Linked DNA regions of Homo sapiens. The protein of the gene in region 1 interacts with the protein of each later gene in a biochemical or structural test. Each region holds a gene or a part of one and is shown in the gene's direction. Other genes may lie near its edges.

The links. The genes of interacting proteins can lie anywhere in the genome.
Region 2: the proteins of RASA1 (region 1) and HCK form a complex in vitro, tested with the Homo sapiens proteins (one study listed by BioGRID).
Region 3: the proteins of RASA1 (region 1) and DNAJA3 form a complex in vitro, tested with the Homo sapiens proteins (one study listed by BioGRID).

What each region holds. Positions count from the first base shown.
Region 1 is NC_000005.10:87,372,383-87,375,882, forward strand, and holds part of RASA1 (ras GTPase-activating protein 1), read left to right. Parts: intron 1-1,780; coding exon 1,781-1,938; intron 1,939-2,457; coding exon 2,458-2,534; intron 2,535-3,500. UniProt on the Homo sapiens protein: Inhibitory regulator of the Ras-cyclic AMP pathway. Stimulates the GTPase of normal but not oncogenic Ras p21; this stimulation may be further increased in the presence of NCK1.
Region 2 is NC_000020.11:32,097,242-32,099,798, forward strand, and holds part of HCK (tyrosine-protein kinase HCK), read left to right. Parts: intron 1-1,762; coding exon 1,763-1,894; intron 1,895-2,557. UniProt on the Homo sapiens protein: Non-receptor tyrosine-protein kinase found in hematopoietic cells that transmits signals from cell surface receptors and plays an important role in the regulation of innate immune responses, including neutrophil, monocyte, macrophage and mast cell functions, phagocytosis, cell survival and proliferation, cell adhesion and migration.
Region 3 is NC_000016.10:4,439,368-4,442,867, forward strand, and holds part of DNAJA3 (dnaJ homolog subfamily A member 3, mitochondrial), read left to right. Parts: intron 1-2,007; coding exon 2,008-2,208; intron 2,209-2,900; coding exon 2,901-3,053; intron 3,054-3,500. UniProt on the Homo sapiens protein: Modulates apoptotic signal transduction or effector structures within the mitochondrial matrix. Affect cytochrome C release from the mitochondria and caspase 3 activation, but not caspase 8 activation.

The sequences.
Region 1 (3,500 bases):
GTTAAAAACATAAGAAAGATTATTCTTCCACTTTAAATAACAACACTAAACCAACACAGCAGAAACGGTTCTGTTGGGCACTTAATTTTCCTTCAAAAACTTATTTTGGCCTCTTTCAAAAAAGTAGAACATTGAAAAGATCATCAGATTTATAGCACTAATCCCAATAAACTTTTTTGGGATTTTCATTTTGAAGAACAGCTTTTAAAACCTACTGCTTAACTCTTAGGAAATATTTAATCTTATTTGAAACTGTAACATGCCCTATACTTTGAGATTTGTGGAGAGTTAAGCTAGGCTTTCTCTTTTTTTTGCCTTTACAAGGGTAACTTTATAACCTCCATTTCTTGGCTTTTTTCTTTTTAGTAATCCCTGTATAATTGGAAGAAGTTAGGCAAATTTTGACATTCTCAAGGTTTAAAGAAAGTTTAGTACAATATTTATTTACTAACCAAAGTGTCTCCTGTTCTCTTTGTGCGAATATCTGATAAGCTGAGTGATTAACATACTGTTCTACTGGGAGTGGATAATGGTTGATATTTAGGTGACTAAATAGTCCCTGTAACCCAAAGTCTGGCTCTTCCCCAGGGAAATTTAAGTATACACACAATCGCCATGTCTTCATAACATTGTAACATTTTGTAAGCTATCAAAAATCAGATTGGATTTTTGCTAATAAGAGCAAGTTGTATTTTGTGTGAAACTTGAGCCATTAAAATGACATTTGCAGGTTTAATATAATCATAGCTAACATCTCTCAAGCACTTTTTATGTATCAGTGGGCAGTGTGATTTAGTGATTTACATATACTGTCAGCCCTTTCTATTCATGGGTTCTGCATCAGTGGACTCTACCAACCATGGGTCGAAAAAATACAATAAAAAGATACAGTATAACAACTATGTACATAGCATTCACATTGTATTAGGTATTACAAGTAATCTAGAGATGATTTACGGCATACAGGGGGGCATGCATAGATTTTATGCAGATACTATGTCATTTTCTATACGGGACTTGAGCATCTTGGGCTTCGTTAGCTGCCAGGACAGAGAGGTGGAGGGTCTTGGAATCAGTCCCCCACAGATACTGAGGGATAACTAGTTTGTAATACTTATTACAACCTGTAGTGTAGACTTTATACTTACATATTAGAAAGATGAGGCTTAGAGGGACGGATTTGTGCAAGGCCACACAAGTAGTATATGGCAAGAGAGAAAGAGAACCTGATACTAGAAGGTGGATGGTCTAAGTTTTGGCATCCAAACTAACAAATAACTTAGTTTCTTTAGGTTTGTATCCTTTCCTGTAAAATAAGAAGGTAAAGTCAGTGTTTTAAAAATTTTTAGCTGTGGAACTCTTTTATAGAAATAGAATCTTCCAGATAAGTATTATATAACATACGGGATTTTAATTTGAGTAGTGACAGTTGTTTACTTATATTAATAAAGAATTTTCTTCTTAACTTCATTTTCTCTTTATCATTGTTTTATGGTAGAAAAGGTGTATTTCATTATTTCTCCAGGAATATACTGGGAGAAATAACTTGTAAAATAAAATTGCATTGTTTTTATCTTTTAGGTGGGAAGAATTATTTTAAATGTCTGAATGTTTTAAGTATGTCATATACAAATATATAACCAAAGCTCACATTTTCTGAAAAAAAAGGGGAAAATAAGTCATTATTTTTGGCTTTGTATCTTAGAGTAATTGCTTTTGAAATGTAGTGCAATTCTAGAAATCTGGGGTAATATATATATATATATTTTTTTTTTTTTAGGTCAGCAGCCTTGTTTTACATATTGAAGAAGCCCATAAACTCCCAGTAAAACATTTTACTAATCCATATTGTAACATCTACCTGAATAGTGTCCAAGTAGCAAAAACTCATGCAAGGGAAGGGCAAAACCCAGTATGGTCAGAAGAGTTTGTCTTTGAGTAAGTCTTATTTTATCATTACATTAATCATTTTCTTTTACCATATTGCATTTCTTTCTGTTTTTTTGGTCTCTGTATCTAAACCATCAGAACAAGGTACCATATCCAGGTGTTCTAATAGCATATATATATATATATATTTTTTTTTTTTTTTTCTGTTGTTTGTTCACCTTTATTTGTGAAGTGCTATGCCCTTGGTTTTTCCACTTAGTTATTAACATGAATTAGCAAGTCAAAAAACATTTACTAACCCACAAATACAAAACATTTACTAGGGTTTCCAGTACTTATTTGAATGAATTATTAGTTTAGGAGGTTAAAGATGGTAGGAAAAGTGTGTAATCTGCGTGTCTTCTGTATACCAAATAATAAAATATGTTGTGAATCTGGTTTTAGGTCTAGCACACTGTTTTTTTTTTTAAAGCAGAAATAGGGGGTTTATTTGATACTAGAACTAAAGAAATAAGGTAGTTTGATGCCAAAACATTTTGTTAATTCTTTTTCTCCTTGCTCCTTTAGTGATCTTCCTCCTGACATCAATAGATTTGAAATAACTCTTAGTAATAAAACAAAGAAAAGCAAAGATCCTGATATCTGTAAGTTGATACAGAAACTTTCTAAAATAGAAAAAGCATGTTTTATATACTTTCAAAATTCACAATGAAAGTCTTAAAATAGAAATTAAAAAAACAGAAATGCAAGTAGTATAATTTGAGATAGTTTCTTTCTGTACTTCTTAAAGTATTGATTATCAAGAAAGAATATACCTAAGATAGAAAAAGACCAATATGGTTCAACTGTACACACTGTTAAGCAATTAAGATTAAAATATTTAGCCACCCTCCTTTCTCCAATGAATAGGAAGAATAAGGAAATGATTACAGTGGTCTTTTTGTAGGGCTTGCCCTCATCCCTTCTTTCTACTTTTTAGGTTTTTCCTGCTTTTTTTTTTCTTTTGAGATGGAGTCTTGCTCTTGTTGCTCAGGCTGCAGTGCAGTGGTGTGATCTCGGCTCACTGCAACCTCCGCCTCCCAGGTTCAAGCAATTCTCCTGCCTCAGCCTCCTGAGTATCTGGGACTACAGGCGCCCGCCACCATACCTGGCTAAGTTTTGTATTTTTAGTAGAGACGGGGTTTCAGCATGTTGGCCAGGCTGGTTTCAAACTCCTGACCTCAGGTGATCTGCCGGCCTCGGCCTCCCAAAATGCTGGGATTACATTACCATATAAGTAAAAAAGTATTCTATTTAAAAATTTCCCTTAAACTTGAATGTCATTTATTCTATTTAAAAATTTCCCTTAAACTTGAATATGTCACTTATTCACTTCTGGTAGTCAAAGGCTCCCAGTTCCTGTCCTCAGCAGCACAGCTCCTTCCATCCTGCTGCTAAAACAGTTGACAGTGAGATTTACCAGTTCACATCAGGGTGAATTAGGTTAATACCTTCTTAAAACTCAGGCTTAGGGAAGGAAGTGATATGTATTAACAGATCAAAGCCTGAATATTTCTCTATAAAATGTTTATTCTGTAGTTTTTTGTAGTAATTTTAGTTTTCCATTACTT
Region 2 (2,557 bases), on another chromosome or scaffold:
TGCACTCCAGCCTGTGTAACAGAGCAAGACTTTGTCTCAAAAAAGTAAATAAATAGGGCCGGGCACGTTGGCTCATGCCTGTAATTCCAGCACTTTGGGAGGCTGAGGTGGGAGGATCACGAGGTCAGGAGATCGAGACCATCCTGGCTAACACGGTGAAACCCCATCTCTACTAAAAATACAAAAAATTAGCCAGGCGTGGTGGCGGGCACCTGTAGTCCCAGCTACTTGGGAGACTGAGGCAGGAGAATGGCGTGAAAGCCGGGAGGCGGAACTTGCAGTGAGCTGAGATGACACCACTGCACTCCAGCCTGGGCAAACAGAGCGAGACCCTGTCTCAAAACATAAATAAATAAATAAATAAATAAATGTAATGACTAAAGGAATAAAAGTAGAATGTATAATTTCTAAACCAGAAGAAGATAAGCAGGAAATCAAGAAAAGTCTGTAGATCCAAAGGAGGAAGGGAGAAAACATATACACACACACACACTCTCACACACACAAACACACACATAGAACATTTTCAAAACTTGACCATGTACTCAGTCATAAAGCAGGTCTCAACAAATTCCAAAGAACATATATTCTATAGACCATGTTCACCAACCATGATATAATTAAACTAAACACTTTTTAAAAAAGGATAACTATGCCAGGTGCGGTGGCTCACACCTATAATCCCAGTGCTTTAGGAGGCCAAGATGGGAGGATCACTTGAGCCCAGGAGTTTTGAGAACAGGCTGGGTAACATAATAAAACACTGTCTCTACAAATTTTTCTATTTTTTTATATTTTATTTTATTTTATTTTATTTTATTTTTGAGACGGAGTCTGACTCTATCATCCAGGCTGGAGTGCAGTGGTGTGATCTCGGTTCACTGCAACCTCCATCCCCTGGGTTCAAGTGATTCTCCTGTCTCAGCCTGTAGCTGGAACTACAGGCACCTGCCACCATGCCCAGCTAATTTTGTATTTTTAGTAGAGATGGAGTTGGCCAGGCTGGTCTCGAATTCCTGACCTCAGGTGATCCTCCTCCTTGGTCTCCCAAAGTGCTGGGATTACAGGCACAAGCCACCATACCTGGCCAAAAAAATTTTTTTAATTAGCTTGGCATAATGGGGCACACCTGTAACCCCAGGGGCTTGAGAGGCTGAGGCAGGAGGATAGCTTGAGGTCAGGAGTTCGAGGCTTCAGTGAACTATGATTGTGCCACTGCGCTCCAGCCTGGGCACTCTGTCTCTAAAAGAAAAAAAAAATGAAAAGGCTAACTAAACCCATGTCAGACTAGGTGGGAGGAAGGGCGGGTAAAGGGAGAGACACATAGTGACTGGTGGGAACCTCATGGGCTGAGAGCCAGAATCCTCCCTTTTCCCATCGCCCAGGATGAGAGGACTGAGGCATCAGCTGCAACCTGGACTCAAGGCCCCCTGAAGTCCTTCTGTCCCCAAAGACCTGTGACCTCTGGGATTCCACTCTTCGGAGTTGCAGTTAACTGGGGTATCAGCTGAATCAACGAGGAGGATTCTAGAGTGAACTTCCACACCATACCCCAGGCCCCTAAGCCCACTCCTCCTTGTTTAGCCATCTGTCCTCAGGATGGATGTCCCTTGCTTCCACAGGGAGGCCACGTATCAGGGAAATTGCAGGTCTGCAGGGGCAGATGTTGGCAGCTCTTGCCCTTGCCTGTTCCCCCACCTTAGCAGAGCCAACCCTCACTACTCCCCAGCCTTCCCCGACTCTGCTCTGTTCAACCCTGCAGGGGCCAAGTTCCCCATCAAGTGGACAGCTCCTGAAGCCATCAACTTTGGCTCCTTCACCATCAAGTCAGACGTCTGGTCCTTTGGTATCCTGCTGATGGAGATCGTCACCTACGGCCGGATCCCTTACCCAGGTAGGGAAGGGGCATCAGCTCAGGGCTGCTACCAGGGCCCAGTCTGGCAATGGGCTCATCTCAACAACATGTCCATTCAAACTGAGTTCTTGATCCTCACCCCCAACCTTCCCTCACCTTTCCTGTCTTAGTTAAAGGCACCTCCATCCATCTAATGTCTTAAGCCTGAAATCTGGGGGCTTCCTTGGCCCTTCCTTCTCTCTCACTCCTATGACTTTTTTTTTTTTTTTTTTTTTTTTTGAGACGGAGTCTCCCTCTGTCACCCAGGCTGGAGTGCAGTGACGTGATCTCGGCTCACTGCAACCTCCGCCTCCCAGGTTCAAGCGATTCTCCTGCCTCAGCCTCCTGAGTAACTGGGATTACAAGCATCCACCACCATGCCTGGCTAATTTTTGTATTTTTAGTAGAGACGGGGTTTCACCATGTTGGCCAGGCTGGTCTCGAACTGCTGACCTTAGGTGATGCGCCTGCCTCGGCCTCCCAAAGTGCTGGGATTACAGGCGTGAGCCACTGTGCCTGGCCTCACCCCTATGACATCTGAGCAGTCACAGGGTTTTGGCCACTCGACTCCAAAACATATCCCAAGTCTCACCACTTTGAACCCCACAGTCTCCACTGCATCCAGGCCAGCGTCATCTCCCATAGATGGTGCAGCGGCATCCT
Region 3 (3,500 bases), on another chromosome or scaffold:
AAAAGAGTTGAGGTCTCACTCTGTTACCTAGGCTGGAGTGTAGTGGCGAGATCACAGCTCACTGCAGTCTCAAACTCTTGGGCTCAAGCAGTTTTCCTGCCTCAACCTCAACTTCCTGAGTAGCTGGGACTACAGGTTCCCCACTGCACCCAGAAGATTCAATTTTTAATGGGGCGGGGGGGTGTTATTCTTGTGAATGTGTTTTTCCACATGGTTAGTTGATCTGATGTTTCTGCCAGGGGCATGAGTTTTGGAGAGTCCTAATCCACCGTGTTGCTGACTTCTGTCTTCAAGGGGGATGTTATTAAACGGACCGAGCCTCAGAACCTAAGAGCAGCAATTCCTTGGGAAGGGCTGGAACCAGGAGATAAAACCCACCAGGAAGTCATGAACTCCCACCTGACTCCTCCTCTGCCAGCCTTCCTCCTTTGCATCTTAACTGGGTGCCCTAAAAGTTACCCTAGGCACCAAGCTGTCCTCCACCTGCTTTCTTAGTCCCCCTCCATTCTAGGTGGAAGTGTCTTTTCCTTTGGAGGAAGCGTACTCTTTTCTGTTTGGCCTTAAGGATAGTGCCTATTTTTTTGAGATAGTGTCTCACTTTGTTGCCCAGGCTGGAGTGCAATGGTGCAATCACGGTTCACTGCAGCCTCAACCTCAACCTCCGTGCTCAAGCAATCCTCCCACCTCAGCCTCCCAAGTAGCTGGAACTATAGGCGTGCACCACCATTCTTGGTTAATTTTTTTGTATTTTTCTTGTGATGGGGTTTCACCATGTTGCCCAGGCTGGTCTTGAACTCATGAACTCAAGCAGTCCACCTGCCTTGGCCTCCCAAAGTCCTGGGATTACAGGTGTGAGCCACCATACTCAGCCTAGGGCAGTGTCTTTTTAATTAAAGAAAAAAAAAGTAAGACAAACACATAAAAAAAAGATACAAAGTGAGGGCCAGGCACGGTGGCTCACGCTTGTAATCCCAGCACTTTGGGAGGCTGAGGCAGACGGATCACGAGGTCAAGAGATCGAGACCATCCTGGCAAACGTGGTGAAACCCTGTCTCTACTAAAAATACAAAAAAATTAGCTGGGCGTGGTGGTGCATGTCTTTAGTCCCAACTACTCGGGAGGCTGAGGCAGGAGAATCACTTGAACCCGAGAGGCAGAGGTTGCAGTGAGCCGAGATCGCGCCACTGCACTCCAGCCTGGCGACAGAGCAAGACTCCCGTCTCAAAAAAAAAAAAAAAGATACAAAGTGAATACTACATTTTTCCTTGTCCCTCCCTAATCCCCCTTTTTGAGGTAGTTAGTCCTTATTAACAGTTTTGTGGGCCAGGCCCAGTGGCTCATGCCTGTAATCCCAGTATTTTGGGAGGTCGAAGTGGGAGGATCGCTTGAGGCCAGGAGTTTGAAAGCAGCCTGGGCAACATAGCAAGACCCTGTCTCTACAAAAACTTAAAACAATTTGCCAGGACTGGTGGTGTGCACCTGTAGACCCAGCTACTGTGGAGGCTGAGGCAGGAGGATTGCTTCAACCTGGGAGGTTGAGGCTGCAGTGAGCTAGGATTGCACCACTGCTATTGTCGTTGCTGTTACTTCTGTTACTCCGGTTGTTCTGGCTTGCAGAAAACCTTTCGATGAAGGTAAGGGTAGGAAGCATAAATTCTCTACGAGGTAATGTCCCCTGAGGAGAGAGGTGAAGTGTGAATCTGTGAAGAATCCAGGGTGCCTGTGAGGTCAAGCGAGGATCAACACAAACATTTTCCCAGCATGCGCGACGGCGGGAGAGTTCGTGAGACTTTTGGAAGCACTTCACGCCCTACACTTAGCATTCAGTTTGGTCATCTCATCCCTCTTCTAGGTGCTAGTCACAGGCCCACCCCAACCTCATAGGATGTGTTTGCACACAGGGCCACTTAATAAATGTTATGGCTGCCTTATTTGCTGTGAACTCTTGTCTGTATTCCTGGGCCTTGGTAGACCTGGGATGCCCAGTGGCTCTGCCTTTCACTGTAGGTTTTGAGTGATGAGGTGAAGAGGAAGCAGTACGATGCCTACGGCTCTGCAGGCTTCGATCCTGGGGCCAGCGGCTCCCAGCATAGCTACTGGAAGGGAGGCCCCACTGTGGACCCCGAGGAGCTGTTCAGGAAGATCTTTGGCGAGTTCTCATCCTCTTCATTTGGAGATTTCCAGACCGTGTTTGATCAGCCTCAGGAAGTAAGTTCCTCACTTGGAAGAATTATTCAAATTTTAGACTAAGTATGGGTCAAACAAATTTTTTTATCAGTTTCTGTTTCTCAGAAAGGCAAGGCAGCTTAAATGGAGTGATCTGGAGGCAGCCATTTTAGTAGAAAATAATTTCAGTATTTGAAAAATCGCATAGGTAGTAATGAGTATGTCCATTCTGATGGTATTCTTAACAGTTGCATAATGAGGTAGCACCTAAGGCTTTCAGAGCCCATGAGGGTGTGAGTGTTGTCTCTCATCTGCTACAGTATTCCAGGAGAGTTCTGTCCGGTGGGAAGGCACTGCTGATCCTCTCTCATTTATGTCCTTATAAGACACTGTCAGAGTGGAAGAGAGAGGGGATATATTTATGATCTAAATTATGATTGTGGATCATTCAGGCTGTTTTTAAGTGCCATGTACGAGTATTTATCTGTGAACATTTTCAGTCTGTTGAAAGTACGTTTTCATTTAAGTCATACATTATCTCTTAAAAATCCCAAAGAGTAGGGCAGAATTCGTTCAGTGAGTCCTACCTATGCTTACTTGGCAGAGTGCAAGTAAGTACAGTGGTGAAAGAGTGACTGAAAATGTGGGCCAGTACCCTCCTTTCCCTTTAGAGCCGAGCGTCAGTTTTGGTCGTTGCAAACAAAAGTTGACAGGCTGTCCCTTGGTTTCTTTAGTACTTCATGGAGTTGACATTCAATCAAGCTGCAAAGGGGGTCAACAAGGAGTTCACCGTGAACATCATGGACACGTGTGAGCGCTGCAACGGCAAGGGGAACGAGCCCGGCACCAAGGTGCAGCATTGCCACTACTGTGGCGGCTCCGGCATGGTAAGGCTCTGCCCGAGACTCCACCTCCCACGGCTTGCACCACTGACTGAGAAGAGCTGGTTGTGGCACTGCTCCCAGAGAACGTATGCTGGGAATTGGGGGAGTTGGTGAACTCAGCCTGGCTGTCTTTCCCCCGTGACCCTGAGGAGACGAGCCTGTGCTCCTCTTTCCCTGATACCACAGGCTCAGCAACCAGAGCACAGCAGCTCCGGGGGCGGGGCGGGGGATTGCATCCAGTTGTCACTTTCTTCTTTATTTTTCTAACAATTGCTTTGGTAATTCAAGGGGAAATAATCTTTTTTAAATGTACTGTTCAGCTCCCAGGAGTCTTCAGGTACTTCTGTAGACAGGCGGTATCATATTTTTCAGTGTCGTGTGGTCAAGTTGATGATCTGGAGTGCAGAAGTTTGTGTGTTCTAGAAAATCAGATGAACAGATTGAGGCCCT